Regions from separate parts of the Homo sapiens genome. Here all the other regions are linked to region 1. Evidence: fine-mapped expression QTL. A gene starts in region 1. Each other region holds a variant in brackets. All regions are shown on one strand. Distances are between the middles of the regions. Region 1 holds the start of VAMP3 (vesicle associated membrane protein 3). Region 2 holds the start of SLC45A1 (solute carrier family 45 member 1). Region 3 overlaps PER3 (period circadian regulator 3). Region 4 overlaps CAMTA1 (calmodulin binding transcription activator 1).

Region 1 (6,799 bases):
ATGTTCACACACTGGAAGACTTAATATTGCTAAGAGGGCAGTACTCCCCAAAGTCACTTCCCAATTTCAAAACTTACTACAAAGCTACAGTAATCAAAACAGTGTGATACTGGCATAAGGACAAACATATAGACTGATGGAATAGAACTGAGAGTCTAGAAGTCAACCTAAGCATCTATGGCCAATTGATTTTTGACAAGAGTGCGAAGGCCATCCAACAGTCTTTTCAATAAACAGTGCTGGGCCAATTGAAGAGCCAACATGCAAAAGAATGAAGTTGAATCCCCACCTCACCCTATATACAAAAAGTAACTCAAAATGGATCAATAATCTAAGTGTAAGAGCTAAAGCCATAAAACTCTTAGAAGAAAACATAAGGGTAAATCTTCATTACTTTGGATTTGACTGTGGATTCTTATATACCAAAATCAAGAACAACAAAAGGAAAAACAGATACATTGGACTTCATAAAAATTAAAAACTTTTGTGCATCAAAGAACATTATCAGGCCAGGTGCGGTGGCTCATGCCTATATTCCCAGCACTTTGGGAGGCCCAGGCAGGTGGATCACCTGAGATCAGGAGTTTGAGACCAGCCTGACCAAAATGGTGAACCACTGTCTCTACTAAAAATACAAAAAATTAGCCGGGCAAGGTGGCGGGCGCCTGTAATCCCAGCTACTCTGGGGGCTGAGGCAGGAGAATCACTTGAACCTGGGGCTTGGAGGCTGCAGTGAGCTGAGATTGCACCACTGCACTCCAGCCTCGGCAACAGAGCAAAACTCCGTCTCAAAAAAAATAAATAAAAATAAAAAAAATAAAAAAAATGTAAAAGACAAGCCACAGAATGGGAGAAAGTATTTGCAAATCACATGTCTGATAAAGAAAGATTTAATATCCAGAATACATAAAAAACTCTCACAACTCAAACAACCCAATTAAAAAATGGGCAAAGCCTGAACAGACATTTCTTCAAAGACATACAAATGGCCAATAAGCACATGAAAAGATGCTTAACATCACTAATCATTAGAGAAACGCAAATGAAAACCCAAAGAGCTCAGTAGGATGGTTATAATCAAAATGGAAAACAAGTGTTGGCAAGGATGTGGAGAAACAGGAACTCTTGGACATTGCTGGTGGGAAAATAAAATGGTGCAGCTATTGTGGAAAACAATTTGGCAGTTCCTCGTAAAATTAAACATACAGCTACTATGACCTAGCAATGCTACTCCTAGGTATACATTCAAGAGAAATGAAAGCCTATGTCTAAACAAAATCTTTCCTGTGAATATTTATAACAGCATTATTCATAATTGCTGAAAGGTGGAAACAACTCGAAGACTCATTAACAAATGGATGGCTCAACAAATTGTGTATACACATACAATGGAATATTACTCAACCGTAAAAAGGAACACGGTACAACACGTTACAACTTGAATGAATGCAAAAAACTTTGTGCTAAGTGAAAGAAGGCAGATGCAAAAGGCCACACATTGTATGATTCCTTTTATATGACATACCCAGAACAGGCAAATCCACAGAAAGAGAGAGCTGATTAGAGGTAACCAGAGAATGGGAGGAAGGGGAAATAGTGAATGATTACTAAATGGGCATGAGGTGTTCTGGGGTGATGAAAAAGTTCTGAAAATGGAAAGAGGTAATGGTTGCAAAATATTATCAATATACTAAATAACACTCAATTATATACAGTTTAAAATGTTTAGTTGTATGTTATGGTAATTTTGCCTCAATAAAAAAACAACTCTCCTTAAAATTCCTTTGGCTAAAAAAAAAAATCCAATTTGATTTTGTAAGTAAACAGAATTTCCAGGCAGGACAGAATTACAATGGGTTTCTTACTGTGAAAATCTAAAATTGTATAAGTTCATGAACAAAACCATCAGATCAAAACATTACTATATTATTTAACAACAGTATCTGACATAACTTTAACTGTTTTTTCAGGGCAGCTAAATGCAGAAAGACCGAAATATATTTGTCGGACAGTGACGGCTTTTAGGAATGTGGAAACACTAGTCTGAATTTCTCAATCTTCTGCTGTGGTTCTCCACATACGGCGCAGAACAAAAGATGGAGGTCCTCTAGCTCAAGAATTCTACAAACAGAGATTTGCTGAGCTAATGGAGTTTGACAGTATCTACTTTGTGTGTGTCAATGGACAACCATTAGAGATGAATTCTACAGAGAGGCTTGCTCAGGCTGGACAATTAGTAAGAAGACAAAGCATTTTGATAAAAAAATCTGATCAGAAGAACTGGTCTTGGCTTGAGCAATCTAAAGACCTAATCCTTAACATTGTATTATCCGATTTTATAAAGTGCTTCTTGGGGAATGCACTCAGGGAGTGATGTTCATGTTTTAGGCATATGATTTTTTATTTCTCCTGAGCTAAATGTTATGAGCAGGTTTCTATCACAGGAAAACAAGCGTGAAACCTAGAAAGTCTGACTTTTGCTTAGATTAGATCTTCCAGCACAGCAGGGAGCAAAGTTTCGTTACAATTATGATACAGTCAGAATTTGCTTTACATTCACACTTTGATGATACTTTTTCTAAACAGATTTCCAGAGTACTCATATTTGTTTAAAATTCATATTTCCAACATTTCAGAGCAATACCTCATCTACTTGATTTTGTGTCTGCTGAAGTCTTCGATTACTGCCAGTGGCAGCAGTTGGACCTGTAGACCTGGAACATGTAAAGGCATGAGCATGAGTACATTACGATTCCAAATACATTTTCTTAAGTATAAAGATGTTACTCCGGGACTCTCACTGTTAACAATCTCTTACATTAGAACTAAAACAGAAAAAGAAATTCTTCCTGAAGCAATGAACGAAAGTTTTAATTGCATTTCTTCTAATTTCTCTATAATTTCCAAGACTGTCCCACCTACTAAAGGGACAAATGTTAAGCTTTAATAGGACCTACTTTGTATCCCTGAAGTATCTGATCCCACGATAGGTAAGCTCTACTGTCCTTTTTTGAAACTTGTTCTAAGGCACACATCTGCTTGAATGTACTCAGTACTTTCCTGATCTTTTCATTGTGGAAGGAACTGTTTTCATAGTTACAAACAGTTACAGAATGCCCTTTTTCCAATATGGAAAAATAGATTAATTTACAGAAACAGAGTCAGGAACACTGGGATGCAGGGAGTGGGTGGTGTGAGTGGAAAGGTGTGTTGAAGAAATGCCTCCTCTTTTAGGAAGGTACTCTTTCTTTTTCCCCCTCTTTTGAGAGACGGAGTTTCGCTCCTGTTGCCCGGGCTGGAGTGCAATGGCGCGATCTCGGCTCACTGTAACCTCCGCTTCCTGGGTCCAAGCAATTCTCTTGCCTCAGTCTCCCAAGCAGCTGGGATTACAGGCATGTGCCACCACGCCCGGCTAATTTTGTATTTTTTAGTAGAGACGGGGTTTCACCATGTTGGTCAAGCTGGTCTCGAACTCCTGACCTCAAGTGATCCGTCCACCTCGGCCTCCCAAAGTGCTGGGATTACAGGCATGAGCCACCGCGCCCGGCCCAGGAAGGTACTCATCTTTTAAAATCTTCATCAAAGGCTTTATTTCTCCCCATGCAGATCTTTCTTAACCACTCTGACTCTGAAGTCATTATTGGCTCCATTACTTGGAAAGTATCACTTTGGTTTTTCAGGTATAAAGTCCCGCCTCCTCGAATAGATCACAGGTTCCTGGGTCTTCTTACTCTCTTCTCTGTATCCTAGATAGCACCTAGCATGTGCCTTGGTATACAACAGTCTGATGGGCTGTTTGAACAGTCACTTTACATCTGTCATGTGTCAATGACCAGGGCTACAACAGATCTCATCACCGTCCTCACGGAGTTTAGTATCTGGTAGATAAGTAAGGACCATGCCGTGGCGCTAGACTCTTTCCATGCTTTTCCTCCTTTAACCCTCATAACTCTCTGAGGGGAATATTACTCCTATTTTACAAATGAGTAAAGTGAGGTTTAGAGAGTCAACACAGCTGGCTGCAGGACAGCTTGTTTTTAGATCAGGTCCTGTGTACCTTGGCTCTAGATCTTAACCACTGTGATCTATTGGCACAGCAGCCTCAGCAGGAACATTCGAGGGGGGTCCCCAGCTCCTGGAAGAAACCCGGGGCTTCCTCCGACGGTGAGCAATGAGCAGAATGGAGGTGGAAGAGGGAGTCCTTGTGATTCTTAACCATTAGCATTCTCTGAGTCTTACCACTGGAAGCAGGGGTTTGCAACGTGCTTTCGCTTAAGAGAGCGAAGGCCCACGGTTAAGTGATCTTTCCAGTGCAGATGCCCCTAGCTAGGCAAGGAGCTCTTCGGCCCACAGGGGCTCAGGACAGGGCCGAGGTCCTTTCTTTCGCAACTTCTGGGGCCCAGCGCAGCACCGGGCCGAGAGCGGGCGCTCCCGAACCAGGGCTGTCGTCCCCATTCCTCTCAGGGACGTCGGGGACTAGAAAGGGAAGGGGCGAGGAGCGGGCTGCGGGCGGGCAGCTCACTTCCTCCGGGAAGCGTCTCGCCGCCCCGCCCTTGCCCCTTCCGCGTCCGCCCGATGGCCGCGGGACCCGCCCGGCCCGTCTGCAGCCCGCGACCCAAGGGCCACCGCCCACCCCCAGGCCTCGGGATCCCCGCGCAGCCCCGGCCTGCGTCCGAGTGGCGGCCGGCGGCAACTGGGCAGTATGGCGGTCCCAGCGCGAGCTGCCGCCTGCGGGGCCCGAAGCCGCCCGCGTCGCGTAGCGTCACTCACATTTTGGCAGCTGCGGCGGCGGCAGCGGCGACGAGAGAGGGTCAGCAGAGAAGCGAAGTTGGGACCGGAGGCCAGGGAGATGGGTGGGACGGCGCGGCGCGGGGCAAAGACGTCACTAGGCGGAGCCGGGGGAGTGGGCGGGGCGAAGAGGGGGCGCGCCGGAAGTGGGCGGGGGCGTCGTGGGTGGGTGCGTCCAGGGCGGGGTCAGAGCGAGACGTCCCCTCCCCGGACGAGGTCACTTGGGAACTTGAGGGCCACAGGGGTCCCAGGGCGGTCCGGGCTCTGAAACGCAGAACGCAGGTCAATACAGCTCCCTGTCCGCACCGCCGTCCGCGCTGGCGCTTGGGGACGTGGTCTGTAAACGTGGTGCATTAGCCACTGGCGAGGGACTGCGTGGATAAGTGAGGGTGGGGGCAATTCATGTTATTCTGGGCTCGGGACCATTTCTAACAGTATTAGAGACAGATGACTGGCTTCTGCTGAGTGTTCCAGAGTAACCTAGTGATCCTGAGGGCACCATGTTTCTCTAAAGTAGTTGAAATAGGAAGTCCATTTCGGGTATTTGTCACATGGTGTTGGGTGAGGTTCCCGCTCATGTTTTCATCGGTGACACAAATATTTGTCACTGCAGATCATATTATAATCTGCTTACGAGAGCCTTGGCATCAAGGCTGTAGTTCCTTTATTTCTGTATTTTCAGGCCCTAGCACAGAATAGGTCCTCAGGTTTTGGTCGAAGGGAGGGAAGCACAAATCTGAACGCAGTGAGTTACCTTGTATATATTTGTTACTGAAATATTCCTACCAACATAGTTACCTACACCAAAAAATAAAACACTAATAGGTCATTGGTGGGTCTCTTAGATGAGAAGTGAAAAATACAGTACTTAAATACTATGCTGTTTTTTCCAACTCTAAATAGAATACTTTGAAAAGGGAAACGTTAGTATATATCGAATAAACGAGTGTCACAAAGGCGGTGGGATTTGAGCTGGGTACTAGTGGAAAAGAACTTTCCAAGTAAGGGTTGGGCAAACACCATGAACAAAGACAGCAGTGAAAATGGACGCAGTGTGCACAGACCACCTAGAGGGTGCAGGTTGGGTACAAGTGAAAAGAAGACTGAATAAAGAGGATAAACAAACAAGAAAAATGTCATTTAATTGTAGTGGGCCCTGGAAACCATTGACTTACGGACGTGGGAGATCCATGATGCAAAATTTCTCTGGCAGTAGTGGCCAGATGGATTAGATGGAAGAGGGAGCACTAGGGAGATAAGGAGAGGCTCTGCAGTGAACGGGAAGGGAGCGGCGATGACACAATACTCAGAAAGGACGACGTTCGTAATCTGCTGGAAAATGCCTTTTAGAAGACTTTAGAGGATTGTAACTGAAAAGGTGAATTAAATTAATGTCTTTATCTTTCAAATAATTGCACTGCCTTACACAAATGATTGACATGTTGAGAGGTGCCTGGAAAGATAGGGGAAAAGCTCTCTGAATGGTGGCTGGAAGACATTTTTTCTTTCATGGACCTAGCTGAAACAATGTAACATTCAATGTCAAAACATTACATCTGGATCAGAAGGAAATCCTTGACATTATTACATATGTTTTGAAACATGTGCCCATCACCTTAGATTTCACTACCCGGTCATATTAAAGCAAAACACACACGTAGTATGGGGAAATTTTCTTCATTTTTAATTTACAGCAGAAAGAATATAAAGCATTCAGAAAACATTTTCCATATTTTAAGGGCAATTCAAAACATTTTGCATGGTTTCCAGCAGCTGAGTTCTTCAACAGATCCATTGATTCAATGATGCTTTACATGCACAATTACAAAAATAAAACTTACAAAAAAAGAAGACATCTAGACTAGTTTTACATGCAAGTCTCAGGGACCCCCCATTGGGCGCCAACTACTGTGTGGAACTGCCATAAGCGACCGTGCAGCCAGAGAGGGGTTCGTATTATTGTCTTTATTTCGTTCACACAGTACAGCTGATTTCGAATGGGTAACAATAG
Region 2 (8,327 bases), 550 kb before region 1:
ACTCACCTGCCAGGAGGGCGTGGATGTTCAGGCCTCGGTCCTGGTCTGCGGGGCTGCACACGTCCATCATGTAGGCGTGGCTGGGGTTGTCCGCCGAGTCGGCGCTAAAGTCCATCAGCACCACACCGCACACGGTCAGCAGCAGGCCCCACTTGTGGTTCCCGGTCACGTCAGCCAGGGCGATGCCAATGTCCCGGCCATTCAGCAAGAGCGAGAGGCCCAGCAGTGCCCCTGGACACAGAGAAACAAAGTCACCCCAAGAAAATGCAGACCAGCTCTGTCCCCGGCAGCTCACGACTTATGTCTAGAATCTTTAGGACTCAAGAATTTTTAAAACTTAAACCTCAAGCACAGCCCGGTGGAAAAGCCGCCTGCAAACTCACCATATATTTTGCACTTGGATGGGGGTTTTTATTTCATTAAGCAGAGAAGAAATGAGATGAACTTTATCAACTCAATTTTTAAAAATGATCAAAGCGATCTATTCTCACAGTTAACTGAGGCCAGGTTGCGGGGCACTCCCTGCCTCACACCAGTGCGGGCCCAGAGCTATCTGGGTAACTGCTTTGGTCAACATTTTTTAAAATTTTCCTAAAAGGAAGCAGTTGGGGCCTTTTTTTTTTCCTCTCCATTTTATTTCCATGCCAAAACAACAGACCTATAGCCAGGACAAGAATGAAAGGGCGTCTCCTTCCAAACCTTGAGGTACACCGGTCACTCCAAGCACCCAACAGAGGCTGCAGTAGGAATCCTGAAACAGAGCAGGCCAGCGGTCATTGCCAGGGTCCCCATGGCACATGGGGACATCGAATCAGCCTCCACATTCCTGAAGTGCCTGCTCTCAAACACCCCCAGTGCATCAAAAGAATAAGATGATGAAACAGTCAGTGACAAAACCCTGAACTCGGAAACCAAAGCTCAGCAGACTCTGGGGATTGCTCAGCATCTCCTTAAATCCTCCACTTTGGACCCTAAGGCCCTAAGCAGCCACGACTTTCCTTGGGAATCCAAGAAATTTCAGGACCTTCCAGGCTCACATGACACCAAGCGTTATGAGTTGGACCCTCCAACAAGGAGAGCCTGGCATCAGACGGTGTCAGCCCTCGGGGAGCTGCTAAATCCCTGTTCTATTGTCTGCTTTCGATAAGGAACTTAAAATCTGGGATATGACCGGTGGTACCTGTGTTCCCCACAGTCCCAGACTGATGAAGGGAACTTAACTCTTGATCCTCCCTTCTCCCCTCAGGACCCTCAGGCTACTGCGATGAGGCTTCTGGAGGCTTCCAGAGGCCCTCCACCATCGGGGAGGAGCCGGGGCTCACCGAGGATGGGGCTGATGAACCACACCAGGCTGTAGAGCTGGTCGGGCAGGCCCATCTGCAGGAGCACCGGGGTCACGTACGCCGTCTCCATGGCGTAGCTGAACTCGATGCCAAAGAGAATGCAGCCGTTGAAAAGCAGCTCCCGGAAGGACCTCTGGGGGTGCAGGTCCCCGAAGTCCACCAGCTCAAGCGGGCACGGGGTGTTGGGGGGCGGGGGTGGGGAGGGACGAATGCACTTCCTCCTCTTGGGGTGTCGTTTGAAGTTGTTGGCCCGGTGACTGAGGTGTCGTGTCACGGACCCCGAGTAGCCCGTGACCTGGGACCTCCAGAAGTCCTGTGGGGCCACGCTGGGGAAGAGGGCATCTCCCGGCGGGGTGCTGCTGGCTGCGGGGATCATCGTGGGGAGGGCTGGTGGGCGTCCCTGTGAGGAAAGCCCGTGGGGAGGCCACAGTTACTTTTGCCTGGGTAGTCCTCCCCCAACATTTGAGTTCACACTGCAGAATTTAGAGTCAAACACCATCCCCCGAAAGCAGAATGCACTGCTCATGGTTGATGCTCCGGGGCCTCACTTTCCCATCTGCAGCTCCTCTGCCCCAGGAGGCCAAAGCCCAGTGCCTTCCCTACTCAGAGAGAGGACCCCCGTCCTGCAGGTCCCCACCTCAAACTCAAAGGGACCATCCCCCAAACAGAGGCTCGGTCAGGACTGTCCTGAGGAAGTGAGAGCCTCTCAGCTCCTCTCCGGCCTCCAAGGACACCAGGCTATTTTAGGACCTGCGGCCCATTTCCAGGGCTAATTTTGCCCTTCCCTGAAGGTCCCAGGGGACCAGAGAGGAAGAGAGACTGGGCATGGTTAGGAACCACCCCCCCGGCACCCTGAGTGCTTCCTCGCGTTGCGGGGACAGCTCCTCTGTCACCAGATAGAGTCAGAGCCAGTCCTCTCCACTCCCTAACGCTTGTGTTCCCTCCTTCGCGGTAGGCCAGGGCACTCTCCCTAAAGGCAGCTGAATGGGCTTAACACAAACCCTTTTCCTTCAGCACCCATTGACAAGTGAGTTTTAGTCCAGTGGGGAGAACTGAGGCTTTGACAGTGTTCGAAAATGCTTTCTTTAATAAGCCGAACTCTGGAATCCCGTAGTCACAGACAACATGCGAATGCAGAGGGACAGAACCAGGGAGAGCTGAGAAACAGATCCCCACCCCCCAGCTTCAACTTACTTTTTTTTTTTTTTTTTTTTTGAGACAGAGTCTTGCTCTGTCGCCCAGGCTGGAGTGCAGTGGCTTGATCTTGGCTCATTGCAACCTCCACCTCCCAGGTTCAAGCCACGCTCCTGCCTCAGCCTCCCAAGTAGCTGGGATTACAGGCACCCCCCACCACGCCCAGCTAATTTTTGTATTTTTAGTAGAGACGGGGTTTCATCATGTTGGCCAGGATGGTCTCTATCTCCTGACCTCGTGATCTGCCCACCTCGGCCTCCCAAAGTGCTGGGATTACAGGCGTGAGCCACCGTGCCCAGCCTCAACTTACTTTTTAAACATTTTCACAATGCCCATGACCTAGGTAAGGAGAGAGCAAGTTCAAGGCCTTCCCAGATAGACATCCTTCCACTCCCCTCCCGCGCTGTCCTCTGCCCAGCTGGGGTTTGCAATCTGCACCACTTAGGCACCGGTTCCAAAGTGTCGAACTGTTTTTCACTGCTTTGAAATTAATCTGGATTATTAATATTAACAGAATGGATTCTAATATGTTAGCTTGTGTGTTTTAGCCGATGTCCACTTGTATAAGCACAAGGAGAGAAAAGCTGCTCAGATCAGAGGGAAAGAGACAGATACCAACATAACAGAGGGGGTGGGGGGTTCCAGGATTCTCTCAGACACAGCCCACCTGCTCCACAAAAAAGCAACAGACTAAATTCCCTTTGAAGTCCTTCCTGAGACGTAGGCCCCAAACTGGGACAACTTTCCCAACATTGATTTCTGATGATGGCGCTTGTCATTGACCAAGATAAATATCACGGGCTTTCTCTCAAAATTAGTTTTAAGCTTCAAAAGTAAGCCACTTTTTTCCTGACATTAACTTACCATACCACTTTCCATCACACTATCACTAGACAATAAATTATTTATGAATCACTCTGAAATTCCTCACTCCAGATTTGTATCCAAAACTCTTCCACCACCCCACCCACTCAGAGATTGTCTTTCTTCTCTTTGGAAGACACCAATGGTGAAAATGATTGGATCTAGAGACATCCCAGCAGGATAAAGAACACTGTGTTAATCCAATGACTCATTCATCCATCCATCTACCCACCCAACTATCCATGCATCCATCCACTCACCCACTCATCCATCAATCCACCCACCCACCCATCCATCCATCCATGCATCCATCCATCCATCCATCCATCCATCCATCCATCCATCCATCCATCCATCCATCCATCCATCCATCCATCCATCCATCCATCCATCTCATCCATCCATCCACCCACCCACCCATCCATCCATCCACCCATCCATCCACCCACTCATCCATCCATCCATCCACCCACCCATCCATCCATGTAACTATGGACCCACGCACCCACCCATCCATCCACCCACTCAGTCACCAATTCACCCACCCACCCATCCATCCATGTACCTATCAATCCACCCACCCACCCATCCATCCATCCACCCACCCACCCACTCACCCATCCATCCATCCATCCATCCATCCATCCATCCATCCATCCACCCACCCATCCACTCATCCACCCATCCACTTGCCCACCCATCCACGTATCCATCCACCCACCCACCCATCCATCCATCCATCCACCCACCCATCCATGCACCCATTCATCCACCAGCCACTCTTCCATCCACTCACCCACACATCCATTCATCCATCTTTCCACTCAGTCATCTACCCATCCATCCTTCCACACATCCTCTCTTCCATTCATCTATTCATCTGTCTATCCAAAAACTATCCACACATCCACC[G/T]ACCCGTTCTTCCACCCACTCCTCTATCCATCCTTCCACTCACCCATCTACCTATCCCCCCTTCCAAACATTTACTCATCCACCCACTCACCTACCCAGCCTCCAATTCATCTGAGTACTGAGTACCAAGACACTGAGATAAGAGAGATAAAAGACACAGTTCTTGTCCTTGAGTTAGGTAAAAAGGTGGAGGAAAGGGCCTTCCTGGGGGGTAGAATCATTGGGTAAAAGACAGATATGAGTAACAGTTGGGCACAGTGGGGGTGGGGTGAGAGATGAAGCCCTCAGGAAGGTCTTAGCTAATCATGGAGGGCCTTGAAGCCTTGCTAAGAGATGGGTTTTATTCCAAGGTGACAGGGAGTGATATAGCAGAGACAGAGTCTCCTGTCACTTCTATAAAAGACTTATCCTGTGGCTTTGGAAAATACCACGCTTTCCTGTAGGAAGAGAACAGATGAACCTAAGAACCATGTAGACAAGTAATACTTCATTTGAAATAGAATTCATTTATAAGGAGTAAATCAAGATTAACATGTTTAAGAAGCTAAGCTTATTTATGTTCCTCACTGGCCTAGCTCAAGCACTTCTGCATGGTAAAACCTGGTGATTGGCAGGTCTTCCTTTCAAAACCCCAAGCAGCAGTTAGCATCCCCTGGAGCTTCATTCATCAAAAGCACAGAAATAGAGCGCCAGTTCCAACACTGTGTAAGACCATCTCCTTCAGAGTCAGAGGCGAGACCCAGCACAGGTGAGGTGGACGGTTGGATCGGACTCCGCCCAAAGGTCACAGCCCCACGTATGCTCTCAGTGGCCATCTCCCTTTCTGTCCCTCTGCCCAGCCTCTCCCCACCTGCAGGCACACAGGCATATCTCCCACTCTTTCTAATCAGCATTTTAACCATAATGTGAACTTAAGTGCATTAGAAACCTTCCCTTTAAATTTGGAATGAAGAACTGTGGCCCAGTTTGGAAAAACTTCAGCTTTAAACAGCATATGGCAGGTGTGTGTGTGTGTGTGTGTGTGTGTGTGTGTGTGTGTGTGTAGAGAGAGAGAGAAACAGAGAGAGAGAGAGAGAGACAGACAGACAGACAGACAGACAGAGTCTCCCTCTATCTAGCCCAGGCTGGAGTGCAGTCATCATCGCTCAGTGCAGCCTCAACCTCCCTGGGCTCAGGTGATCCTCTCACCTCAGCCTCCCAAATAGCTGGAACTACAGGTGCACACCACCACACCAGGCTAATTCTTGTATTTTTTTGTAGAGATGGGGTTTCGCCATGTTGCCCAGGCTGGCCTCAAACTCCTGGGCTCAAGTGATCCACCTGCCTTGGCTTCCCAAAGTGTTGGAATTACAGGCATGAGCCACCATTCCCAGCCCCTGAAGTGTCTTTTTGAAAAGAGGAGCCTCTTTGACCTTATTTAAAGTGGACTATGTAGACGGCCCACTTCTCTACCTGCAAGAGGACAACTCTACTGCCACCTCCGCCACACCCCACTGCAGCCTGTCCTAGCAGAAGGGAGATCCTCACACACTCAATGAACTTCTCTCTAGCATCTGAACCAGAATTAAACCTAGCTTAATCCTGGCTCAGAAGAAGTCTTTACTAAGGATTCATCTTCAAATCTGGGGATCAGCATTACCATTTTTATTAAAACTACATTTAGTAAAAACTGTTCACAAATGTTTATCATAAGAAGAATTTTAGAAACTCATTTTTGAGACCGGGCACAGTGGCTGACGCCTGTAATGCCAGCACTTTGGGAGGCCGAGGTGGGTGGATCACCTGAGCTCAGGAGTTCGAGACCAGCCTGGCCAACATGGAGAAACCCCGTCTCTACTAAAAATACAAAAAATTAGCTGGGCATGGTGGCGAGTGCCTGTAATCCCAGCTACTCCGGAGGCTGAGGCAGGAGAATCGCTTGAACCCAGGAGGTGGAGGTTGTAGCGAGCTGAGATCGCACCACTGCACTCCAGCCTGGGCAACAGAGTGAGACTCTTGTCTCAAAAAACAACAACAACAACAACAAAAATCCATTTTTAAGGTTCCCATAAAAATGGGTGAAAGTGGAATTTAAGATCATAAAATCTAATTTTCATGCACAAATACAAACATTCGCCAGACCATCTTTACTGTACCATATGACCATTTACTCGGTCAAAAGGAAATCCACTCATCTCCCTGGATCCCCCGAAGGCTATGCAAGGGGTCCACTGTGCTTCCAGAGTACAGAGGATGCTTAAAGTAACAGATTCCTCAAACTGTGTTGTGGGAAGTTTAAGCGGCAAATGATTAATAAAAGTAATCAATGTCAATGTAGTTTGAATGCTTACAATGATCCTACTACGAGCGGAAACCATTTCCTCATTTCTTTCTTCTCGTTATGAAAATGAGCTCCCCCCACGGGGTTGCCTTGGGCCACCTCCCTTCCTAGGGCGTATTTGCTTATTTGTTTATTTGAGACGGAGTCTCACTCTATCGCCCAGACTAGAGTGCAGTGGCATGATCTGGGTTCACTGCAACCTCCGCCTCCTGGGTTCAAGCGATTCTCCTGCCTCAGCTTCCCAAGTAGCTGGGATTACAGGCATGTGCCACCACGCCCGGCTAATTTTGTATTTTTAGTAGAGATGGGGTTTCACCATGTTGGCCAGGCTGGTCTTGAACTCCTGACCTCAGGTGATCCACCCGACTCAGCCTCCCAAAGTGCTGGGATTACAGGCATGAGCCACCGCGCCCGACCCCTCATGCTTCTTTCTACCCATTCTCAAAATTCTTCAGTGAGGTCCTCCAGGACCAGGAAGGTGCTCTACGGACTTGGGAGGGTGCACTTAATAGGCTAGTTACTGAATCGTGGCCGTTTCCCACTTTGCATCTCCGGCAGCTTGACCCCTACTCCAGGGCCAACTTTTCCCAAAAGCCCAGGCCAGGTGCAGCCTGAACGTGGCTTTCCTCCGCCCCTGACTCTGCTTCCCTGTAAGAGCTGAAAAACATGCACGGCTGTCACTCTAGAAATAATTAGAGAAGTTGCTGATTGTCGAGGGCAGAAGGAGCTGAACGGCTTCCACCTCAGCGCGTTCCCCTTGGTGCTGACTCGCTCGGGAAAGGGGAGTCCTCGGTGCCCTCGCTAAGTAACCCTGGGATGCTGAGGGGCGTTGCCAGGCCCCTGGTCAACAAGAGGGCTCAGCCCCACGCAAGAGGTGAGCCGGGAGCGGATGACACCTGCCCAGGTGACTAGGGACCAGGCCTCCGGCTCAAGGAGCGCATCAGGAGCTGGGGCCAAGGCCGGGGTCTCCTCCCCTTGCCAGCAAGGATGAGAGCACCTGCCATCTGGCCGGCACCCTCCCCTGGGCCCGAGGCTCCTGCCCTCGGAGGGGCGAGACGGGGGAGCTCCGTGGACTCTGCAATTCATGAGACTTCCACGAGGAACAAAGGTCTCCGTGCCGGCCTCGGGTCCCGGTCTCGGCGCCCTGACTACCCCGGGGCCCAGGGCGCGGCGCCCCGGCAGGCACGGAGCCAGAGAGCGGGCGGAGGGCGCGGAGGAGACGGTGGTACCTGTGGGTGGAGACGGCAGGCATCCCTGTCCCCGCTGGGCTGCTGCCTGCCCGGCCGCGGTCCCGGCTGCTGCAGCATCACCCGGGGCGGGGCGCTGACGTCACGGCCGCAGCCTCCGCATCCGCGCGGGGCCCGGAGCCTTAAAGCGGCGCCGCGTCTGGGGCCCCGCGGGCGGGAGGGGAGCCCGGTGTCCTCCTGGGCCCTTCCCGCGGGAGGCCCGTCCCGGTGCTTCGCGCACGACGGCGCGGTCTGCAGGATCTGCCAGGATCCCGGAGGAAAACGTCCCCCCGGCCTCACAGTTCTCACCGTTTTCTTCTGATTTTAAAAGAAATAAATACATTTTCGTGTCTTCATGTATAAATAGATACCCATGTGTTCGCGGATACGTGAATGCCGCAGTGCGTGTGCCAAGCCTGTGCCCATGTGCGCAGTGGGGCAGCCGGGCCTGCTGGAGGCGTCGCGACT
Region 3 (8,327 bases), 59 kb before region 1:
TCCTGGTTCTTTGGTCTTCCTGAGATCTCTTTTTCCATTCCTAATGAGCTATCACTCTCAAGGCTACACACATTGTCCTTTATCATCACCCATAACCGCTCCATCTCCAAAATCATCAACATCTCAGCTTCACTCTCTCATGGGCTTGTTCAATTATTTCAACTATAAATGTGTTAATAACGTCTTAGTCTTCCTGTAGTGGAGTCCTCAGTTCATCATTCAGTAACACACCTTGCAATACCTTAGACTTCTTTTTCCCTCTGACTTTTCATAACTGTCAAAATGCCAACTCCAATAAAGCCAATTATTGACTTTGTTCTTACCTAAACCCAAGTCGCCAAATACATACAGAAAGTCACATATAACAGGGTACAGTGTTTCTACAATAAACGCATCATCACCAACCTCAAATGCACCATCAAAATACCTGGGAATCCTGCTACAGTTCTCTGGTCATGCACTAACCTACCCCCAGCAATGACTATTTTCAACCTCTCTATTTCCTGCCTCAATCTCACCTATTTTTTAAGGAAAAAAGAAGCCATCAGAAAGCAAATTAATCACCTTTATGATACCAAACATACACAATTAATGATATATGTACCCCCTCCTCACCTTCCTCCTGCCACAACACAGAAACTGTTCATCCCAAGGACCATCCCTTTATGGCTGATATGAAGCCTTATGGATCATTCCTTTCCTATCTTGCATTTGACCCTTCTAGAACCTTCTCACTGACTTTGAAGGAATTAAAAACACAAAACAAAACTATTTGTTTAATTTTTTTTAAAAAACTAAGTATGTAAATAAAAAAGTAATAAAAAAATTTTCCTCATTAAAAAATATCTTTAGGTTGGGCGTGGTGGCTCACACCTGTAATCCTGGCACTTTGGGAGGCCAAGATGAGAGGACTGCTTGAGGCCAGGAGTTTGAAACCAGCCTGGGCAACACAGTGAGGTAGGTTCCATCTCCATAAAAATAAAAAATTAGCTGAGTGTGGTGGTACATGCCTGTAGTCCTAGCTACTCAGGAGGCTAAGGTTGGAGGATTGCTTGAGCCCAGGAGTTTGAGGCTACAGTGAGCTATGATTGCATCAGTGCACTCTAGCCTGGGTAACAGAGTGACACCTTGTGTCAAAACAACAACAACAACAACAAAACACTCACACAAAACAACTTTAAGAGGTTGTTACTGTTTAAAGCAAAAATAATAACAATGTTATTGTGGGTTTTTTTACACGTTAAAATGTATGACAAAAATAGCACAAAAGACAAAGGGGACATGGAAGTACTCCGTCTTAAGGTTCTAATATATAAAGTGATACAATAGGCATAATATTTGAAGGTAAACTGTGATAAGTAAAAGATGTGCATTGTACAACCTAGAGCAGGCTGGGCGTGGTGGCTCACACCTGTAATGCCAGCACTTTGGGAGGCCAAGGCGGGCGGATCGCCTGAGGTCAGGAGTTTGAGTTCAGTCTGGCTGACATGGTGAAACTCCGTCTATACTAAAAATACAAAAAATTAGGCGTGGTGGTGCACGCCTGTAGTACCAGCTACTTGGGAGGTAGAGGCAGGAGAATTGCTTGAACCTAGGAGGTGGAGGGTGCAGTGAGCCAAGATGGCACCACTGCACTCCAGCCTGGGTGACAGAGTGAGACTCAGTCTCAAAGAAAAAAATAAGATAAAATAAAAATAAATAAAAAGTTAATCCTAGAGCAAAAACAAAAAAAAAGTTATGCTTAGAAGCCAATACACAATTAACCCGAAAGGAGGAGGGTAGGAGGAAAAAAAGAAAGGGCAGATGAGACAAACAGAAAATTAGTAGCAAGATGAAAGATTTAACTTAAACCTAACCATATCAATATTCACATTAAATGTAAATAATCTAAGCAAGCATTGCAGTTAAAAGGCTGAGACTGTCACATGAATAAAAAGCAATACCCAACTATATGGTGGTTACGAGAAACTTACTTTAAATATAAAGACACAGATAAGTTGAAAGTAAAAAGATGAAAAAAATTTACCATGTAAACACTAACCAAATAAAGCTGGACTGGATACACTGATATCAGACAAAGCAGACTTCAAAGCAAGACATATTTCAGGATAAAGAGAGCAATTCATCAAGAGGATATAATAATCTCAAGTGTATATGCACCTAATAAAAGAGCTTCAAAATACATGAAGCAAAAACTCACTGCACTATAAGAAAAAATAGAGAAATTCACATTTATAGCTGGACATATAAACCATATCATAATAACTTATAAAACAGATAGAAAATCAGTTAGAAAAGGTTGGATCAACATTATCAACCAACTTGATCTAATTTACATTTACAGAACACATGACTCAACAACAGCAGAAAGCATATTCTTTTCAAATGCACATGAAACATTTATCATGATGGACCAAATTCCAGATCATTACACAATGTCTTGGTAAATTTAAAAAATACAAAAGAATGTTCTCTGACTGCATTTAAATTAGAAATAAAATAAAAATATCTAAAAAAAATCTCCAAATATTAGGAAATTAAGCCTTTCTAAAACAACCAAAAGATCAAAGAAGAAAATACAAGTGAAATTAGAAATATTTTAGACTGGCCAGGTACACTGGCATATGCCTGCAGTTCCAGCTACTCAGGAAGCTGAGGCCAGAGGATTGTTGAACCCAGAAGTTTGAGGGTGCAGTGAGCTGGGATCATGCCACTGCACTCCAGCCTGGGCAACAGAGTGAGACCTTGGTTCCAAAAAAAAAAAAAAAAAATTTGAGGGATGCAATGGTTAGAGCATTCAATAGCATTAAATGTTTATATTGGGGGGGAAAAATCTCAATTCAAAGATCTAACAAGTAAGCTTCTACCTTAAGAAATAAGAAAAAAAAAATAAAATCCAAAGTAAAGAGAAAAGAAGTAATAAAAATTAGAGCATAGGCTGGACACGGTGGATGATGCTTGTAATCCCAGCAATTTGGAAGGCCAAGGCGGGCGAATCATGAGATCAGGAGTTCAAGACCAGCCTGGCCAACATGGTGAAACCCCGTCTCTACTAAAAATACAAAAAATCAACTGGGTGTGGTGGCGGGCACCCGTAATCCCAGCTACTCGGGAGGCTAAGGCAGGAGAATCGCTTGATCCTGGGAGGTGGAGGTTGCAGTAAGCCAATATCGTGCCACTGCACTCCAGCCCAGGTGACAGTGCCAGACTCTGTCCCAGGGAAAAAAAAAAAAAAAAAAAAAGAGCATAAATCAATAAAATAAAAAACCAAAAAACAATAGGAAAAAAAACCCCAATGAGATCCAAAGTTCTTTGAAAAGTTATTAAAATTGATAAACATACAGTCAGATTGATCAGGAAAAATATTAATACCAGCAATAAGAGGGGTACATTACTATAAAACCTACAGACATTAAAAGGAAAAGGGAATATTAAAAACTTTATGCCAATATATTCAACAAATTAGATAAAATAGATACATTTCTTGAAAGATACAAATTACCAAAGATCACTAAGAAACTGATAACCTGATTAGACCCATATATATTAAAATATTTAA[A/T]TTTGTTGTTAAAATCCTCCTCACCAAGAAAACTCCAGGCCCAGAAAGATTCACTGGTAAAGTCTACCAAACTTACAAAGAAAAAATAATATCAGTTCAACACAAACTCTTCCAGAAAACAGAATAGCAAAGAATAGTTCCTAGCTCATTTTTTGAGGCCAGAATTACTCTGATACCAAAACCAGACAAAGACATTACAAGTAAAGAAAGTAAATGGACCAATATTCTGCACAGAGATGCAATAATGCGTAACAAAATATTAGGAAGATAATCCAACAACATATAAAAAAGGATAAAAGAGCATGACCAAATGCAAGGTTAATTTATTATCAGAAAACTGATGTAATTCACCATATTAATAGAATAAGGGAGGAAAACCACATGATTATCTCAACAGACGCAGAAAGGGCAACTCAGTGGAGCAGCAATAGAAGTGAACTTCCTCAATCTGATAAGGGCATTCAAGGAAAACTTATACTTAACATCGTACTTAATGGTGAAACACTGACTGCTTTCCCCTTAAGACTGTGAACCAGGCAAGTGTCTATTTTCCTATTTCTATTAAACACTTCACTGTGGGTCCTAGCCAGTTCAATGAGGCAAGACAAATAAATAAAGACATACAGACGGAAAAAAAGAAGTAAAATTATATTTGCAGATAATAAAGACTATGTAGAAAAGTCCTGCAGAATCTAAAAAGAGCTACTAAAACTAATCAATGAGTTTAGCAAGACTGCAAAATACAAGTTAAAAATACACAATTTGATTAAATTTCTATATGCTAACAACAAACAATTGCAAATTGAAAATTTAAAATGCCATTTTCAGTAGCATCAACAATTATAAAATCCTTAGAGATAAATTTAGCAAAATATATGTAAGGGTTGTAGGCTGAAAACTATAAAACCCTGCTGAGAAGAATTAAAGACCTACATAGAAAAATCGTACTTGTGGATCAAAACACTCAATATCATCAGGAAGATAATTATTCACGTATTGATCATCTATAGATTCAACACAATTTCATTCCAAACACCACGAGACTTTTTTGTAGAAACTGAGAAATGGAGTCTATAATTTATATGGACAAAGGACCTAGAATATTCAAAATCATTTTGAAAAGAAGAATTAAGTTGAAGGACTTACTTCACCACGCTTCAAGACTTACTTGAAAGTTACATTACTTAAGAGTGTGGTATTGGCCTAAAGCTAGCCATACAGATCAGTGGAACAGAAAAGAGAGTCCAGAAATACACCCACACGTGTATGGTCAAGTTATTTTCAACAAAGGCATCACGGCAATTTAACGGGGGAAAGATTAATCCTTTGAACAAACGGCAGGAACAGTTAGATATCCCAATGTAAAGAAAGTATATTGACCCTTCCTCATACCATACACAAAACTCAAAATGGATCACAGATCTAAGCTATAAATGCTATTGAGCGTGCATCTCAACAGCATCATGCTAACTGAAAGAATCCGAATACGAAAGACAGCATACTGTCTGATTCTATACATAAATCATAGGAAAAGCAAAACTAAAGTGACAGAAAGCAAACCAGTGGCTGCCAGGAGACCAAGGGTCAGGGCAGAGATGGACTGGTGAGGGTCACAGAACTGTTTGGGGTGACAGAAATGTTCTATATGGTGATTGTGGTAGCGCTTACACTAAGGTACACATCTGTCAGAATTCTTGTTTGTACCCCTCAAACTGGTGAATTTTATTGTGTATAAATATACCCCAATATACCTGACAAAAAGGAAAAAGGGAAAAAGAAAAAAAAACCTTGTACTTCCACATCAGTGCCTGGGGCACACAGTGAGAGCTCAGCACATAGTGAATGTCTGGCATTGGAGTTTGAAACATTAGTTGTCCTGATCCACTACCTGATGCTGCTGAACCAGTTCTGGATGGGGATTCGCTGGGAGGTGACCCCGTGGACAGAACAGTGGCAGTAGGATGGGATGGAGTCCTGCTGGGAGGCAATCCCATGGACAGTGTGCTGGCAGTAGGATGGGATGGATTCTTCATGGGAGGCGATCCTGTGGACAGAGCGCTGGCAGTAGGATGGGATGGATTCTTCATGGGAGGCGATCCTGTGGACAGAGCGCTGGCAGTAGGATGGGATGGATTCTCCCTGGGAGGTGACCCCGTGGACAGTGCACCGGTAGTAGCAGGACTGCTCTCACTGCCATTGTTGCCTGTAACACACTGCTAGAAAGTAAGGGCACATGAAAAGACACTTTAATCTTCTTATCACAAAATACAGTAGTCCTCCTTTATTCATGGTTTTGCTTTCTGTAGTTTCAGTTACCTGTGGTCAACCAAGGTCCAAAAATAGTAAATGGAAAATTCCAGAAATAAACAGTTCATAAGTTTAAAATTGTCAGCCATTCTGGTAGTGTCATAAAATTTTGAGCTGTCTTATTGCTTCCAGCCTGTGATAGGAATCATCCCTTTATTTCACACCTCCACACTCAGTAGCCGTCTTGGTTATCAGATCTACTGTGGTATCATAGTGCTTGTGTTCAAGTAACATTTATTTTACTTAATAATGGCCCCAAAGTGCAAGAGGAGTGATGCCAGCAATTGGGATATGCCAAAGAGAAGTCATAAAGTGCTGCATTTAAGTGAAAAGGTGGAAGTTCTCAAGAAGGAAAGGAAAAACCCATATGCTGAGAGTGCTACAATTTTAGGCAAAAACGAATCTTCTATCCATGAAATTGTGATGAGTATATTGTTATCATTGTTCTATGTTATTAGTTACTGCTGTTAATCTCTTACTGTTCTTAATTTATCAATTAAACTTTACCATAGATATGTATAGTATGTTTAGGAAAAAACATACTGTATATACGGTTCAGAACTACCCACGGTTTCCGGCATCCACCATGGGTTTGAAACATATCCCCTGGGTAAGGGAGACTACTGTAACTGGCAGATCTTCAACTTCGTGTGTTAAACAGAATAAAATTTACATATATAACTAAGAAGTAAAAACGTTCCAGCCTATCTCTAAGAAATAAGTTCCTTTGTAAGTAATATTAAGGCACTACTACTTTCTCAGTACCTGCTACATGCCAGGCACCCCACAAGTAGTTTTTTTTTGTCACTCAGCAAACACATATCGAACATTTATATGTTCTAGGCACTGTGTCAAACACTAGGAATATAATAATGAACAAAACAAAGTTCCAGCTCTCCAGGAGCACCTACTGCATAGGGAGAAGTACTATATAAATACATCATTTAGCCCTCAGAGTAAGCTATGAGGGATTCATCTTTCCATTTTCCTAATAAGGAAACACAGGCAAAGAAAGGTTAAATAACTTGTCTAAGTGAATCTTCCTAACTAGTGACCGAGCTGGGATTTGAATCCGTGTCTTAATCCATAGCCCAGGCTTTACTCACTGTAATATACTGCCTTCCCTTAGATTTTCAGCAAGCACACCAGGCTTTCAAAAGTGAGCATATTTTCTTGATTTGTATCACTAGATTTTGAATATCTGTTAAAGAAGGGTATTGTACCTTAAAGAGAAGGTCAAAGAAAAATCTGTGTAAATATTCACACTTGCCTTGGATTCTATACCTAAATATAGGAACGTCAGATTCCAAAGTTTAACCTGCTAAATAAACCTGAGAATGGCTTTTTAGGTAAAGGGATGAAAAGTTAAAGGAAGCAGACCAAAAAAGCTTTTGGTTTTGAAAAAAATGACATGTTTAAGTGTGAAACTATAAACTGCCTACTCTACTGATAACAAATAAAATAGCTCCTACCTCTTCATACACACCTGTTGTCCTGTGACTGTGCATGAAGAAGTACAATCGTTAAATTGTCAATATGGCTTATTCCTATCTCACCTGACCATAACCCCGGTTGTAAGTAAACAAATACGTGTTATAGGCAATGAACACTTAAGCGTAATACCTGTAACGAATTTTAAAGAGTAGAGGGAATCCAGTTCACATGAAAACTTAAAAGATAGCACTTTGGAAAAAACCTCACAAAGTATATAAGAAACTAGAACATAGATGATTCTTTCATGTCTACTTTCCAAACAGAGCCAGGCAGATGTGTTTCATGTTTACACAGAATTAGGCTAACAGGCTCACTCACAGTAGCCACGCGGATTACCTACTGAGAATGTCAGCACTGAGTCCCAACGCAACCACCTTAACTTTAGTAAGATATTCACTTTCTCACTTGAGTGTTGAAAATGAGCATCACTTACATACTCAGTTTGTGGGCACGTGTTCCTTCTCATCTGATCTGGAGATTCAGAGGGTCTGGGCATCTCTTCCTGAAGTAAGTTTAACTGCAAGGGTGAGCTGCTTCTCGAAGTAATGAACGGGTGCCCCTCGCTTTGTGCCTCCCACTTTTCCTCCTCTCTCCTTTGGCTGGTGACTGAAGGGGGTGGGTCCAGAGTTGGACTCATTGCTGACGACATTGAGGGTGATATCGCAGAAGAGGCTGTCGCCCCCAGGAATGGACATGGCAAAAACGATGGCGACAACAGAGGACAGACAGGGGGGTCAGGCAGGAAAACGGTCATAAAAGTATCCAAGTAAGGAAAAGGGAAAGCTGGGTAAGGCTGCAAGCCCTCGGACAAGGGCAGCCCATGCAGGCCTTCCGGTGCAGTTCCGGGGGCTGCGTATTCTCTTCCGGGTGAGGTCGCGGCTGGGAGGGGAAAAGCTGGGACGAGGTAAGGGGCCTGGCTGGGCACCATGGCGGCAGGTGGGAAGGTCGGGCTCGAGGTGTGCGGAGA
Region 4 (8,327 bases), 100 kb after region 1:
CAAGCCTGAGTCGCCTCTTTTCCCCAGCACCTCCTCTCACTCACTGCTGCTCACTGCCCTCAGCTCACTGCCCTAACTTGGTGGGCTCCCTCCTGCCCCTGAAGCACCCTGGAGTCTTGCAGAAGACACACTCAGTGCCTGCGTGTCTCCTGCCACCTGTGACGGTGTGGGAGCTGCCAGGGCAGGACCCTGCTCATCTGTTTTGCTTGGGCAGGTGTGTTGGGAGACGGGTGGGCATTGGCCAACTGTGTTGCCAGTGCCCCCTCCTCCCGTGTCGTTCCTGGCTTGTGCTCATAAGCCTCTGAGCCTCTCTTTTTGGTGAGGCCAGTTTGATTCTGACTTCCAAGTGTTCATCCTTCGAGCTCAGCCTCAGATTCCTCTGGGGAGACCCAAAGATGAGGTCCCCAAGCAGCCAGCGTCATCTCCGGAGCAGTGATTCATTTGCGCACTGCACTCCTCCCTGGACCGAGAGCCCCTTACGATCAGGGGCCCGGTGAGAAGCTGGGTCTTATTGTTTGCTCCATTCCAGGCCCCTACTCTGTGCAGAGCAAGCAGGGGCTACTCAAAAGTTATTTGGCAAATGAAGAAATGAATGAATGAATTAATACATCCAGTGCTGTTTTACAGAGCAATGTGTTCCAATTTGGGCCTCAAAGCAGAGATGTCCAAAGGAGGCCCCCTTTGTGGAGTTAGCTGAAGACAGAGTGCTGGCTCTAGCAGGGGAGTCCCAGCTCTCAGTGTGCCTTGAGCCTTGTGGCTCCTGGTCCCTTGGTCCGAGACACATTATGGCTCATATAATGAGCCTGAACAGCTAGGAGGGTGAGTGGCCTGGGCAGAGACTCTACCTGCCATCTCTGGGGACCCAGAAATGCCCCAGGACCAGGAGAACTGCCTGTTGAGACCCAAACTGCCCTGGTACCCTCTCCGAACTCCCCCTTGGGAAAGGAAGAGCGAAGGCCTCCTTAATGGGAACCCTTCAGGAATGGAGCACTGGGCCAGGTGCTTCACACACCTCCTCTCACTCACTGCTCTCGCCCTGCTGGCAGGCAGTTTTCAGAGCTGTAGAAACTGAGGCCCAGAGAGGTCAGGCACTGAGCTCCAGCAACAGGGATGGTTTCTGGCTGATCTGGGATGGACCCGAGTGTGGCTGACTCCAGCCCCGGGGCCACACAAAGCCCAGCCTTTCTTTTTCTGTAGAGGGGTCAGATAACTGAGAGCAGACCTAAGCAGCCCTGCCCTGGTCCTTAGCCAGGCGAGAACCAGGTACAGGAAGTGGCATCTATTTATAGGCCAGGCAAGTCGCATTCTGGCAGCAGATGATGGGTGCACTGTTTAATTCCACAGTGCCCTCCCCGCCACTCCCGCCGGGCCGGGGTCCCATCAGCTGCACACAGCCCTGAGCTGTGATAGGCAGACCCGGCCTGGCTGCCACCCCGGCTGGCTGTGCTCCAGGCCGAGCAGGGCAGCTAGGTGGGCCTTCTGGAGCCAGGCAGGTGGGGGCTGGGAGGGGAGGGCTGGGCCAGCAGGGGGTGGGGTGGGCACCTTGGGCTGCTGCACTGGCTCCTGGGAACTTTTTGGGGAAGATGGTGCTGGGTTCAAGCAGAGGCGGAGTGTGCAGCCAGCTGTGGAGCAGGGGTTTTCTGCTCTGGTGGCTGCAAGAAGAGCCTGAGAGAGATGGGGCACAGTGGCTCACCCCTGTAATCCCAGCACTTTGGGAGGCCAAGGTGGGCGGATCACTTGCGTCAGGAGTTCGAGACCAGCCTGGCCAACATGGTGAAACTCCATCTCTACTAAAAGTACAAAAATTAGCTGGGTGTGGTGGCACAAGCCTATAGTCCCAGGTACCAGGGAGGCTGAGGCAAGAGAATCACTTGAACCCAGGAAACAGAGGTTGCAGTGAGCCGAGATTGCATCACTGCACTCCAGCCTGGCAAAAGAGTGAGACTCCATCTCAAAACAAAAAAACCAACAAAAAGAAGAGCCTGAGAGAGAAGGAGAAAAGGAGAAATGGGTGGTGGGACTCAGCTGGCCCAGCCTGGGGGCATGGTTCAAGGGTGGGGTGGTGGTGGCAGACAGCTGGGGCAGCCAAGGCTCAGGCTGGACCACCTTGGGTGGAACCTAGAAACACCCTGGGGCCTGCCTAGCACTGGCCAGCTCTGTACTCCCACCCCGTACCTTTCCTCCTCACCCCCAGTCTTCTACACTGAGCATCTTCTCTCCTTTCTAGGCTCCCTGACGTTAGAGGACAGGGGTGGGTCTCCCTGCCGTTCCGCACCCCTGCATCCTTACCCCCCTCCTGTTTATGGTCAGGGCTCACTGGACAGGCCATCCTGAGGGCTGGTGGTGATGAGATGGGGCAGCCAAGGGAGTCCTGCCAGCAACAGCCCAGGAGCAGAAGACATGAGCTCTAGAAACAGGCTTCAGATGCCTGGAGACTCATTCATTCCGTCACAATCTCCATCCCCCTCTGTGACATGTCCGGCACTCTGCCAGCCCCGGGGATACTATGGTGATCAAGAAGATAGTCCCTGACCCCATGGGACAGGCGAGTGGGGAAGCAGTGATGGCCAGAGATCAATGACAAGTTGACCAGACAGGGACACCGTGCTAAGCAGATAATGCTGGAGCCTGGGGAAGGGCTTCAGAGGCACAGGGACAGCACAGAGGCTGTCCCAAGGGTTTCTTGGGGGATTTTTGAGCCCCTGAAATTGGAAGCAAATTATATGCACCTTTTCTGGGCACAGGGTAGATGGCTCTGTTTTACATTCTCAAAGGCATTTGTGCTGATTATTGTTAGATTGACCTCCCATCACCACCCCATCTCCCTCCGCCCCTGCCAGGCTTTCTCCAGCCTTCTGCCCCCTGCCCAGGGCCCTCGGGAGGATGGAGCCTGTGTGTGGGCTGCATTGCCTGGGCTCTCCTGGCTTCTGGTTGGCTTGGGCCATGGGAGGCACGGGCAGGTGCAGAGAGGCCGCCTTGCTGCAGAGGTGGTCTCTGGCCCCAGCTCTTACCAGCTCTAGTCACCCTTTGGGCTGAGGGTGGTGGCCGCTTCCCACTGTGGCCAGTCCTGGATACATCGCCTGGGCCTGGCTTATTCCTGCCCTAAATCGTGCTCTCATCACATTCGCTTCAAAATCCCAGTCAAGCGTGCCTGTGTCCCTGTCCTATATTAGGTCCCTGAGCCAAAGGAGGTGACGTTCTAATAGACTATCGGGGATCCGCTTCTTCACAGCCGAGGAAACTGAGGCCTAGAGTAAGGACATGACCTGCTCAAGGTCACCCCAAGGCCAACTCCGAGTCCAGTGCTCCTCAGGCCATCACACTCACCTTGGGGGCCTGGGGGGCGGCTTTCTCACCTGGGCAGTAGCAGCGCAGCACCCCAGGCTGAATCAGGGATGCAGGCACTGAGATCTGGTCAAACAGGCAGCTGTAGTTATTGCTGGCTTCTTGCCACGGGCCTGTGATGAGGACCTTCACTCCTCCCTGCAGAGAACAGAGAGGGGAACAGAGTTGGAGTGTGAGCCACTGTGGGAGGCAGCATGGGGAAGCCCCCCTGAGGCTTCACTGCTCAGATGGGGGTCTGTACCCCTCGCCCCATGCAGATTCCCAGGCCCTCACTCCAGGGATTGCAGTGAGCCCCGACTTCTGAGAACCACAGCTCCAGGACTACAGCAAGAGGAGAGCCCAAGGCGCTCCTTCCCCAGCCCCTCAGGAAGCCCCAGGACCGGCAGCTCCAACCCCTGACCTTCTCCCTTTTGTGTAACTCGCAGATCCAGGCAGGAGGGAGTGCAGAGTTTTGCAAACCCTTTCAGCCTACGATGCCCCTGAGAAATGGCCTGGAAGGAAGCCGAGGGCAGGGAGGGGACTTGCTCCGTCATTCACTTGTGGACAGACTGAGGGAACTCCAAGTTTTGAAAACAGGCCTGAGCATCTCCGTGTCAGCCCAGGGACCAGAAGTTCTTGTAGGGAGTTGAGGAGAGACCCAGGATCCCCAGGCTGTGGGGATGGCAAGGTGAGGGGCTGGAGCAGGACGGGCTGAAGAGCCCGATGAAGAAA[C/T]AGAGGAGCTAAAGGAGCTAAGTGAAGGAGACGCTCAGAGACTGCCCTGGGAGCTGAGTTTGGGGCTCAGAGCTTGGGGCTGGGAGTGGAACGGGGCTGAGCATCTGCCCCCTCCCCCAACCCTGTGCTATCAAAGGTCCTTGAGTCTGTGTCACTGCCTACACAGCTAGCCTGGGGTCCCACAAGCAAGCAGTGACCATGCAGCCTGGCTGGGAGCAGCCTCGAATGACCTTCCTCAGCTCCAGGGGGGAGGACCCCACCCTCAGGAACCTCCCAGGGCGCCCAGGGGCAGGAGAGCATCGGAAGGGCTGGGGTACTCCCTGACTCCCCGTTCCGACCAGCCTGGGGCTGCTGCAGAAAGTGGAGGAGGAGGGTGGCCTCATGTCCGGGGCCCGGGCAGTCCTGCTTCATGGCCATTGTCCTGCTTAGTGATGAGAGAGGGAGGTGCGAGGTGGACGGCACCTTGGAGGTCCCCTACTTACGGCTTAGCCGAGGAGAGGGGCTGGTCACTGAGTAGAGGGAGGCTCTCCCTGGGGATGAGGAAGGTAGGGGTGCCGGCCTCCCGGACTCTCCTGGCTAACCTTGGGTGGACCCACCCCAGAGGCGCCATCCACCCCACCCCCAAACCAGTAAACACCTTTCCCTGCAGTGGGGCGGAGAGCTGCTAGGTCAGGGCGGAGAGCACCACCTAGTGTCCAGGCTGGAGAAGGCCGCCAGGCAGGCTGGAGCCTGGGAGGTGGGGGTGAGGAGCTGCTGTGAGCCCACCTTCCCCACTGCTCCAGGCCAGAGAAGTGATTCCCTACCCCCCAACTCCGTGCCAACCAGATGCTCCCTACTGGTCAGTCACTCATTCTTGCTTGGCCTCTCCTGGGCCCTGGCCCACCCCTGCCCTGGAGGAAGCCCCGGCCTCTACAAGGAGCCTGCCCTAGGCGCCCCACAATGTTCCTGGAACCCAGGCCTGGCCCAGGGCATCTGCAGCAGGAGTGAGTGTTTCCAGGGATGAGGTGGAAGTAGCTCCTCCCATTGCCCAGCCAGGAAAAGAGACTTCTTCCACGGAAGGGGCTCTCCCAGGCTGGAAAGCATATTCCACCCCTGCTCTTGCATGAGCCTGGCTCTGGCCTGGGAGGTCACTTTACTGCTACGGCAGCAGAGAGAGCTCAGGACCGAGAAACAAAAGCAGGAGGCCTGCTCCTGCGCCTCAGTAGCTGTGTGTCCTCAGGCAAGTGGCCCAGCCTCTCTGGGTGGCATCTCCTTGCTAGGGGCCCTTCTGACCACAGCATCCCTTGTTCTGATGCCCAGGGATATTTGCAGCTCCGTGGAAGTGGCGGGGCATTGGGGGGAGTGGGTGCCTGGCTGAGAAGAGTGCCGGCGGACAGGTGGAGCCTGACTTTGGGATGTCTGGAAGCACCAGAAGGCCAGCTCAGGGCACCATCCCCCAGGATCCTGGGAAGTGGAAGAGCAGTGACTTCAAAAGGCCACAGACAGTTACCATGTGAGAAAAAGGGAAAAAATAATAACCGCAATCAACAGCTGCTAGCATGAGGCTGGGGCTGCTGCCGGGAACAAAGAACTGCAGAAATTACTGGAGAACATCAGGACCTTCTCCATGGAAACCGCCGCAGGACAGCTCAGCATCCATCCATTCAAGGGATGGTTCCCATGGCAACAGCCCGCCTGGCTGCGCTGAACTGGTGGTGACGCGCGTGCCTGAGGCTGTAATTGCAGGCTCTTCTGCTGCTGCAGCAGGAGTGTCAGTGGTGGGAGATGACGCAGGAGGGTTTTGGGGGTGGGGAGGGGGCACGAAATGCCATCTGAGGTCTCTGAGTCCTGAGATAAAGGGCCCATGTCTGATGCAGCCAGGGCAGATGCTGGGGCATAGGGGGACGCCTCTGGGGTGTGTGGTGGGTGTGTGTGTGTGTGTGTGTGTGTGTGTGTGTGTGTGTGTGTGTTGGTGACCAGCTGCAGCTGGAGGTGAAGGGGTGGACAGAGATAGGAGAAATGGGAGCAGCCTGTGGGAGGGAGGGCCACTCAGAGAAGAGACAGCAGGATGGCCCCGGCCATCGCATTCCTGCTAGGTAGATGCATTGAGGTTTAGAGCTGGGTGGGGGTGCTGAGTAACCGTTTAGCCAAACCCCATTTTGCAGACTGGGAAGTAGGGCCCAGGCCGACGAGCCTGCCTGTAGAGCCCTCCCTGAGCTTGGCAGAACCTGGCCAGATTGGACTCCTGATGCAGTCAGTGCACAGACAGGCTGGCAGGGAGGGGACAGGACGAGGGCCAGACAAAGGGAGAGAAGTGTCAAGAGAGAAGGTGCTCTCTCCTGTAGAACCCAGGATGGGGGCACCCCTGCTGTGGTGTGGAGACAGTGGCCTGGGTAGGAGAGGACAGCAAGGAGGAAGGGGCCCTTCACAACCTCTGAGGCCTCACTGTGTGGCCAGGTGGGGCCCCAAAGGGCCTAGCTGGGTGGCTTATGCGCATTTTCCAAATCAAGCTGAATTTCAGCAGCTTTTGGTTGTGGGTAACTGGAAGCATTGAGGGCTTCTGGAAAAGCAAGGCTGGCCGCTCCCTCTGCTGGGCTGCCAGGCTGCCAGGCTGCCATTGCGTTCCTGTTCCTGGGCCGCCCTCGTGTGGCGAGCTGCTGAACTGCAGGCCCAGAAAGGACAGAAGGAGTCAGGCCTGCTAATGTCCCACTCGCCAGGACACCCAGGAGGCTGGGGTGTGGGTCTGCACCCAGCCCAGGGCCTGTCTGACAGGCCAGGACCTCGGGAAAAGAGGGGACCCTCCTCCCACCTCCTGGCTTCTGCAAGACATTAAGGGCTCCAGGGCGCCTCTAAGTGTCCCGAGGACCAAATCTCCCAGGTCCTAGGACTGGGAGTGCCTCGAGGCCACCCCCTCTCAGCCATTTACACGTAAGGAAACTGAGCCCCAGAGAGTCAGGTCTCAAGGAGCCAGGACCAGAAGACAGCTCTGACCGTCCCCCCGCACCCTGATCCTGGCCTCCTCCCTGTCCCTTTGCATCGCTTTCTTAAGCCCAGGGTCAGGGGGCACGGGGAAGATGCCCAACTGGCCTTCATGGGGTGGGGTGGGGGGTGTGGTGGGCACTCCGAAGGTGCCATTGAGCTCAGAGTCACTGATAAGATTAGGAGGTCAGGGCCGGGTGTGGTGGCTCATGCCCGAAATCCCAGCACTTTGGGAGGCTGAGGTGGGCGGATCACTGGAGGCCAGGAGGTCAAGACCAGCCTGGGAAACATGGTGAAACCCCGTCTCTACTAAAAATACAAAAATTAGCTGGATGCAGCAGGGTGTGTCTGTAACCCCAGCTACTCGGCAGGCTGAGGCAGGAGAATCGCTTGAACCTGGGAGGCGGAGGTTTCAGTGAGCCGAGATGGCGCCATTGCACTCCAGCCTGGGCAAAAAGAGTGAAATTCCTTCTCAAAAACAAAACAAAACAAAACAAAACAAAACAACAACAGCAGGGGGGTCAGAAACACGGTCACACCAACCTATACCAAGAGGAAGCCCAGTCTGATCCTTCCGGGCTCTTCCTATCGGGGATGGGAGAGCTGGGGGTGTCTGTACACAGATTTTCTTAGCTTTGCCAGCGGGGAAGAAGGGTGAGGAAGTATGAGCCCCCTTCTTTGGTGTTCTCCAGCCGAGTGGGCCGTGGGCAGCCACCTCCCAGGCAGTGTCCAATCAGGGCCCGTGGTGCATGTGCTGGTCCCTGAGCACCCAGATGGGCTGGGTAGAGGTCAGGATGCACGTGCTTGTCTGCACTAGGTTATTTAGGGAAAGCCTGGGCCACTCTGTCCCCTTCCTGTGCTATTCTGCTCTACAGAAAAAGCAGAGATTCCTCTACTGCTTGTGTCCCTCAGGCAAGATGCTTTGGTCTTTGGAGTAGTGGTTCTCAAAGTCAGATCCCCGGGAGCTGAGGCGGCCTGGGGGCTGGGGGAGGGTGCACGTTGGAATCCTGCGTCCTATGACCTGTGTGGAATTTTGCAGAAGGCCAGGTTTACTTAAGAAGGATCTTCAGGATGACTCTTCAGAAGCTGTGCCCTGTTCAGTTTTGAGAGAGATTTTTGGTTTTTGGTTTTGTTTGGCTTAGAGAAGTAGGGTGAAGGCAGTGGATGTAGACGATCTATGATGGTGACTTTTTCTTTCTTTTTTTTTTTTTTAAGACAGTTTCATTCTTGTCGCCCAGGCTGGAGTGCAGTGGCGTGATCTCGACTCACTGCAACCTCCACCTCCCGGGTTCAAGCGATTCTCCTGCCTCAGC

What was found.
Region 2: its variant is fine-mapped to the expression of VAMP3 in pituitary (GTEx, PIP 0.99).
Region 3: its variant is fine-mapped to the expression of VAMP3 in whole blood (INTERVAL, PIP above 0.99).
Region 4: its variant is fine-mapped to the expression of VAMP3 in whole blood (TOPMed, PIP 0.97).

What each region holds. Positions count from the first base shown.
Region 1 is chr1:7,769,357-7,776,155 of GRCh38, reverse strand. VAMP3 (vesicle associated membrane protein 3) reads right to left here and starts at 4,860. Exons shown (of 5, transcript NM_004781.4): 1 at 4,771-4,860; 2 at 2,645-2,714. The coding sequence starts at 4,772. CAMTA1 (calmodulin binding transcription activator 1) reads right to left here. Exons shown (of 23, transcript NM_015215.4): 23 at 6,450-6,799. RefSeq lists silencers at 4,497-4,726, 4,691-4,933 and enhancers at 5,167-5,216, 4,960-5,656.
Region 2 is chr1:8,317,722-8,326,048 of GRCh38, reverse strand. SLC45A1 (solute carrier family 45 member 1) reads right to left here and starts at 7,935. Exons shown (of 9, transcript NM_001080397.3): 1 at 7,863-7,935; 2 at 1,323-1,743; 3 at 659-751; 4 at 7-231. The coding sequence starts at 1,719. RefSeq lists a silencer at 7,826-8,105. The variant G/T (reference allele first, on the strand shown) is at 4,314.
Region 3 is chr1:7,827,282-7,835,608 of GRCh38, reverse strand. It overlaps PER3 (period circadian regulator 3), which reads right to left. Exons shown (of 22, transcript NM_001377275.1): 18 at 7,794-8,327; 19 at 5,448-5,775. Among named protein-coding and RNA genes, the nearest start is that of UTS2, 22 kb to the left of the region's middle. RefSeq lists an enhancer at 7,880-8,327. The variant A/T (reference allele first, on the strand shown) is at 3,560.
Region 4 is chr1:7,666,067-7,674,393 of GRCh38, reverse strand. It overlaps CAMTA1 (calmodulin binding transcription activator 1), which reads right to left. Exons shown (of 23, transcript NM_015215.4): 10 at 3,357-3,483. Among named protein-coding and RNA genes, the nearest start is that of VAMP3, 100 kb to the left of the region's middle. RefSeq lists enhancers at 4,369-5,215, 6,384-6,573. The variant C/T (reference allele first, on the strand shown) is at 4,057.